2 linked regions of the Homo sapiens genome follow. The protein of the gene in region 1 interacts with the protein of each later gene in a pairwise test. Each region holds a gene or a part of one and is shown in the gene's direction. Other genes may lie near its edges.

Region 1 (3,748 bases):
AAAGAGGGATTGACTGAAAATGTTTTACATGTGCCATTTTTCTTCAGGTTTTCTAGTTTATGGAGTTGCTTTGTTCTAATTGAGTGTGCAGGAGTCTGGAGATCTCATAAGGCTTCTGCTGTAGCCATCACAGTCTTTGACCTCTGTTAAGCCAAATATTGCTACACAGACCAAAAATACAGACAGACCAACAAAAATCAGAACCAGACTAGATTATCTTAGTGGCTGTAGCTTTTTAGTATTGCCTTAATTCTTTGGGACTTAAACATACACCAGATTTGGGACTCTGAACTGACCAGAATCCCCCTTGGGTAGGACTCAAATCCACAATCCTAGACAAGGTTGGGACTCTCATCCATAATCCTAAACCACAGGGTGGGACTTGAACCCACAGTCGTTATGATGAGTTCAAAGACAATTAAAAGTACAGGGGCATATTAACAAGGTACTCACCAGAAAGATGTCTAATCCAGAAGCAATTTATTTTCCCAAAAGAGAAGTGCCAAGGGAGCCTGAAGTGCCATGGTGGAGAAGAAGGAACCCTATAGTCGAGCCTCTGGACACCCTGGTCTAGGTGGCCACTCAGGATCAGTGCAGGGGGCCTGCACACCACTAGGGGCAACAGTACCTTGGACAGGCTGTTCGTCTCACCTGGGGTTCTAGTTTGTTAACAAGCAAAAGGGGCTCACTGCCCAATGTGCTAGAAGCCAACACTGACACCAAATTTTTGAAAAAAAGAAAAGCTTTATATTAAAAGTCACCTCTGAAGGAGACAGGAGTCAAGCTCAAATTTGTCTCTTTCTGCTGGCATTAAGGCAGTACTTTTATTAGAAAAGGTTCAGGGGGTGGATTCTGAGATTAGTAGGTGATTTGTGCAAGGAAAAGGGAGGTCTGGAAAGTCCTTGGGCATGCATAGTTATTTCTTCATGTTAACTCCTGAGTTGCATGGCAAATTCAGGGAGAGTTAGTATGAAACGTGGTGGAAATTCAGGCTATGACATCAGCAAGCTTATTCTGTGCAAGCTCCAGTTAGCCATCTTGGTTCCAACCAGTTTCAGCCAGGTTTTTCTTGATCTCACAAGTGGAGGGAGTTTCAGCGGCTTAAGTTTCTTTTCTTATCTGCTATCTTGAAACTCAAAAATTAAGTAACTGGTTTCTTACTCTTTGGGACTTTCCAGACCTCCCATTTCCATCCACCAATCACCTACTAATCTCAGAATCCACCCCCTGAATCTTTTCTAATAAAAATACTACCTTAATGTCAGCACAGAGAGACAGATTTGAGCTTGACTCTTGTCTCCTTGGGAGTTGACTTTCAATATACAAGTTTTTCTTTTTTAAAGAACTTAGTGTTTTAGTATTGGCTTCTATTGCATTGGGTAGTGAGCCGCTTCAGCTCTGTAACACTAACTCTGGTAGATAGCATCAGGATGAAATTGAATTGTAGGGCACACAGTTGGTGTCAGAGAATTAAGGAATTGAGTAGTGTCAGAAAACACCTCAGACTACACTTTCTCCCTTGGTATGGGAAGAGTTCAGTTTGTGTTTCTTTCTTCTTGAGTGACCCAACTCCAAGAAGATGCCACTTCTGGAGAGAGAATAGGGATCTCAACTTAGCCTGGCAGTGAGAATACGAATGGCAGCTGGAATGACCCAACAGGGGGCTAATGTTTGGGCTATTGTGTGTGTCACACTGACCCTGACCAGCCAAGTAGTCACAGCACCCACAAGCTCTTCCTGCCTGTCAGATGCCTCATTCCCACCTGTGATGCTCAGAGAGAAACCATGAGCCCTGAAAAACACCATATTGTTTTGTGATGTCACCTCTGGAATGTTCTGAGTGTTTTGGTGACCAACTTCTGCATAGGACCTATACCTGGCAACTCACATTGGTATGGCTTTTTACTTGAGATAGAAATAATCATCTTAGACAGGGAAGCAGGTACAGCTATCTCCACTTCAAAAACTTTCAAAAGCCTTTTACATCAACTATAATATCTAGCTTAATATCTGTTCAGAGATTGATAAACCATCATGCCAGATATCATCTACACGTTCTTTCAGACTCAGACTTTCATAATTGTACATAATTGACAAGAGAGAAATAAATGAGTAGAAAGTTCTGTGTTTTTTAGGCGAGCAATTGAGGCCCAGAGGATGAGCTGGGAAGCAGTAATCTTCTTCTTTTCTCGTTTCCACAGCACTCAAGGCCAAATTATACAAGAAAAAGAGATACCAGATCTGAAAGCCTAGAAATTCCAATCAGTGTGGTTCTACCTCAGGTAGGGATAATCACAGAAGGATGTAACCTATCAGTGTTAGCCAGAATAACCCCCCATCTCCTCCTTCAAAACTCTAGCAAGATGTTGTAGAATAAGCAGAGATAGTCAGGGCTTCAGATTATAGTTTGGGTTGGGTGCCAGCAGGCGGTGTGCTGGGGAAGGCCACATAGCCCCTCTGGGCCTTGGGTTCTTTTTCCCATGAATGAGGTGGCTGGGTCAGATGATCTGGTAAGAACTTCCAGTCCTAACATTCCAAGTTTCTATGATACACTGAAGTAACCCAGCCTTCTCAAAACGAGATCTTTTGGTGCTTAGTGTTGTGCAATCACTCTGGATTTCTGGGGGAGAATTAGAACTGGGACTTGAAATCAAATGCATAAGAATGAATCCATGAGAAGAAAACCTCATCCGTGGACAAAGGGGTACAGAGTTATTTGGAGCTGTCAAGAGAATTAAGCCCTGCTATGCATCAAAGACAGATGTAGGGGCCATGGGCATAGATGCTTTTTCAGTCAATGAATTGGTGAAGTCCTCACAGGCTATAGAGTCTCAGGTCTCCTCCTGCCTGCAATCAGCTGTTTCCTTAGTGGAGTCCTCTTGATTGAATTGTTTCTACTGCTGCTATGTCACAAAGGGGTGGCTTTGCTTTCTCCAGAGTCACCTAAGTCCTCATTGGAAGACCAGGGCCATGCAACCAGAGGGGTTGAAATGTAGGATGGAGGAATCCAATGCAGAGGTAACTATCTGAGAGCTCTGTCCAGGGATGTGTAGGAGGAGGATTGACCACTGGTGGGCATTCCATATATATAATTGTAACAATCTAGGCAAGTATGTTCAGCGGGAGGCAAAAATATGGAAGAAGAAAACATCCTGGATGTTTATTTTCACATTATCTTTATAACTTTGTAATGAACAGTCACTTTTCTGTTACTTTTAGCCCATGAATCTTAGCCAGAATATAAGATAACTTCCCCCTGATCATTCAACAAGATAACAAGCTGTAGGAATCTTTTTGGGCCTGATTCTTTCCACCTGAAATACGCAGGGAGTTGTGTTAGCCACTACTCCCCCAAGAGTGGGTGTTACTGCTGTGATTCCTCATAGCCCATATAAACCAATCTTTTCTTCCAGAATCCTGGGGCCCCTCAACTTTACATGCTTTGAAAGTACCTCAGATGGCTGAATGTTCTCTGATAGTAACCCTCGGTAATGTTAGCAAAGTTGGTGTTTAAGAAACTTGGTCAGGCAGAGGATGCCAACCTAGGGGTGGGTGTGAAGGAGGGGGTAGGATTTGAAAGAGTAGTGGTCATGTGATAGAGAAATTGGAATGATGTTTCCATCAACACCCACCGCAACTTTCCCTCCCCAGCTCCCAGAAACAGCCCAACGATCAAGGAGAAGAGAAGGTGGTTTAAGACAGCTCAAGCTTGTCTTGGGGCTGCCTGCTTCCTGTGCTGGAGGACCTG
Region 2 (3,748 bases), on another chromosome or scaffold:
CCCACCTTATGTTTGGACCCTGACTGCCCACAGCTGTTTAATGCAGCACTCTGGAGCATAGTGACCGCAGACTTGGTTAGATTCCAGGGCTCTGTTTCACTCTTTCGGCGCTTGCTAATCACACTGCACATTACTTGATATTTCAGTAACTCTTGTGGTTGTCAGTGATTCTTTCTGAGCTGTCATTTTTGTTGATAATTTTTTTTTTTTTTTTTTGAGACAGGGCTTTGCTCTGTCACCCAGGCTGGAGTGCAGTGTCATGATCATGGCTCACTGCAGCCTCTACCTCCTAGGCTCAAGCAATCCTTCTGCCTCTACCTCCTGAATAGCTAGGACTACAGGTGCACACACCGTGCCCGGCTAATTTTTAAATTTTTTGTAGAGATAGGGTCTTGCTGTGTTGCCCAGGCTGGTCTTGAACTTGTGGCCTCAAGCAGTCCTCCCACCTCAGTCTCTCAAAATGTTGGGATTACAGGTGTGAACAACCATGCCTAGCAATTTCATTTATAAATGCCTCATTTTCAGCTGTGTTTTCATTAGGTCTTTTAGGAGAAAATACTCTGTTCTGCACAAAATTGTCTAGGTTCTGAGTCATAATGATCTTGATGTTTTGTTTCATTTTCTGTTGCAGATGTTGCTGCTATAGCATGTGGTCGTGAATTCTTGGTTAATTCAAGCCGGGTGCTCTTGGACACCATATTGCAGCTTCTGGGAGACTTGAAGCCAGGACAGTGTACCAAACTCAAAGTGTATGGTGGATAATGTTAAAAAGTTAATTCTATTTACATATTAATTAGACTGTGCTGATTGGGCCTCTCTTCAAGTAAACACAGTTAATTTTGGTGGTAGTTTTAAAAACTAGAAGAAATAAATTCCTGGAGAAGTTAAGGGCGTGCACTGTCTCTTAAATAGCATTTTAGAAAATAAATTTAAGGAAGGAATGTTCTCACCTTAGAGCAATCAGTGAGTCCCAGTATTATCACATGGTACTTCATGGGTATGTCAAAATGAATTTAAATAGGTATCTGTCTTCCAGCTACTAAAATCTGTATTTGTTTTCTATTTTTATGTAACAAATTATCACCAACTTGGTGGCTAAAACAACACCATTTATTATTTCATAGTTTGGCAAGTCAGAAGTCTGAGTGGGTTTGAGAGGTTCTCTGCATAGGTCAAAAGTGAGGTGTTTTCCAGGGTGGGATCTTTTCAGAGAATCTAGGGGAGGAATCTGCTTCTGGGCACTTTGAAGTGGCTGGTAGAGTCCAGTGTCTTGGTTTCTAGGAGCGAGTTCCCTGTTTCCCAGCTGGCTGGTCAGCTGTGGGTCAGCTGCTGAGGCAGCTTGCATTGCTTCTCACAGGGACCCCATCTTCAAGCCACAGTCGCTCATTGAATCCTTCCCACGTTTCCAGTCTCTGAGACTTCCTCTTCTGCTACCAGCAAGATGAAACTCTCTCTGCTTTTATTCTTTTGTTAAAAAGTTTACTTCAAGAAGGCAAAAACTCTGCTTCTTATAGATTTGTGTGTTTAGATGAGGCATACCTGGATAAACTCCTTTTGATTAACTCTTGAGTCAGCTGGTTAGTAACCTTAATTACATCTACAGAATCCTCTTTTCCAGGCAATGACATAATCAGCGTGTGATAATTTATAGTCCCAGAGATTAGGGCAGGAAATCTTGGGGAGAGGGGCAGTGTAGGATTCTGCCACTCACACTGTTCGTTCTGAGTGTTGCCTTTGACTTCTTAGAGCATCTTTATTTTTTAATTATTTTTTTAAAGAGACCGAGTCTCTACAGACCTTGCCTAGGCTGGCCTCAAACTCCTAGGCGTTCAAATAATCCTTCCACCTCAGCCTCCTGAGTAGCTGGGACTACAGGCATGTGCCACCATCCCCTGCTGTGGAGCACTTTTTTTTTTTTTTTTTTTTTTGAGACGGAGTCTTGCTCTGTCACCCGGGCTGGAGTGCAGTGGCGTGATCTCGGCTCACTGCAAGCTCCGCCTCCCGGGTTCACACCATTCTCCTGCCTCAGCCTTCCAAGTAGCTGGGACTACAGGCGCCCGCCACCACGCCCAGCTAATTTTTTGTATTTTTAGTAGAGACGGGGTTTCACCGTGTTAGCCAGGATGGTCTCAATCTCCTGACCTCGTGATCCACCCGCCTTGGCCTCCCAAAGTGCTGGGATTACAGGCGTGAGCCCCTGCGCCCGGCCTAGCACTTTTAAAAAGTAAGAGCTTCTGTAAAGTCTGTGCCAGGTGCTTCCAACACCTGTGTCATCCTGGCCTCGGTGTCTCTTGATTGTTTTTTCCCATGAGAGTTGAGATTTTCCTGTTTCTTCATATGCCAAGTAATTTTGGATTTATCCTGGACATTTACGTGATCACTGGTCTTGTTTAAATCCTTGGGAAATGCTGGTGTTTATATTTTCACAGGCAGTCAACCCCTTTGGGTCAGATTCCAGCCAGCCTTTTCTCTGTTTGGTTTCAGTGTGTCGTCCTGTTTTCAGAGTCTTTACAGTGCTATTGGAACTGCCCCTCGTGAGTGCCGCCCAGTGGCCAGTCTGAGACCTGGGTGGTCTGGATCTTAGGTTCAGAGTCTTTCAGATACTGTTTATGATCAGATCCACACAGGCACAACTTGGGATGAGGCCAGGAATTTATAAACAACTTTTTGGGGTCACTTTTCTGAGCTGTTAACTCTCTGGGTACACTTTAGTTACCTGGGACTGCCTTTTTCAGTCCCCCACCTGGAATGCTGGGGCTTCATATACCCTGCTGTGTCCAAGTGCCTGCAACTCTGCCCTCATCCCGCCCTGCGGCAGGAGTTGAGAAGCTCTTAGAGCTTTCAGGTGTAAGGAAAAAATTCCTTTCCCCCAGAGTTTGAGTTACCTGGGGGATGTCCCCACTGCTACCGTGCTTGGTTGCTGGCAGGAGACCCCTTTCCCACTCCTTGAGCCTCACTAGAGACCTTCTCCTGGTGCTCTCTGTGTGGCTCAGGGCTACTTTTGGGTTTTGGAGCTCCCTCGAGTCCAGGCCAGGGACACTAAAGGAAAAAGTGGTAAACTCTCTGCTGGTTTAGTGGTTCTTAAAATTTTGATCTTCTTCCCCTATCTGCCTGCTACTGTTTACTTTTCAGAGTCCTCAAATAGCTGCTTCATGTATTCTCTTTGGAATTTATAGCTGCATTCAGTGGAAGCGAGACTGGAGGGTGTGTTCAGGCCATCTTATCCAGAACCAAGCTTTCTAGTCCATTTTAATATTTTGTGCTAACAAATATCTATACATACATAATACATATAATACAGTGTAACATATATGCAAAAAAAATTTTTTTTTTGAGACAGAGTCTTGCTTTGTAACCCAGGCTGGAGCACAGTGGTATGAACATGGCTCACTGCAGCCTCGACCTCTTAGGCTTAAGTTATCCTCCCAGCTCAGCCTTCTGAGCAGCTGGGACCGTCAGTGCATGCCACCATGCCTGGCTAATTGTTAAATTTTAAAAATTTTTTTGTAGAGACGGGGTCTCTCCATGTTGCCCAGGCTGGCATAGATGGTTTTGTTTGGGGGTATAATTTTACAAATTGCTTGTGGATCTAGTTCATTCCTTTTAAGTACCTTGCATCAAAGGAGATGTAATATTTGGATTATCCTTCCCTGACTGATGGGCATTTAAGTTACTTTCGGGTTTTACTTGACAAATATAATGCCGTAGTGAGCATCCTTGATAAACTCTTTGCTAACCTGTCTGAGAG

What was found. Proteins that work in one complex are often made in the same cells at the same time.
Region 2: the proteins of CBY2 (region 1) and HSF2BP interact in binary tests that used the Homo sapiens proteins (3 or more experiments, as listed by UniProt).

The regions. Positions count from the first base shown.
Region 1 is NC_000013.11:45,700,574-45,704,321, forward strand, and holds the start of CBY2 (protein chibby homolog 2), read left to right. Parts: upstream 1-1,746; 5' UTR 1,747-1,817; coding exon 1,818-1,892; exon of another isoform or gene 1,893-1,942; intron 1,943-2,201; coding exon 2,202-2,282; intron 2,283-2,937; coding exon of another isoform or gene 2,938-3,018; intron 3,019-3,748.
Region 2 is NC_000021.9:43,610,831-43,614,578, reverse strand, and holds part of HSF2BP (heat shock factor 2-binding protein), read left to right. Parts: intron 1-631; coding exon 632-749; intron 750-3,748. UniProt on the Homo sapiens protein: Meiotic recombination factor component of recombination bridges involved in meiotic double-strand break repair.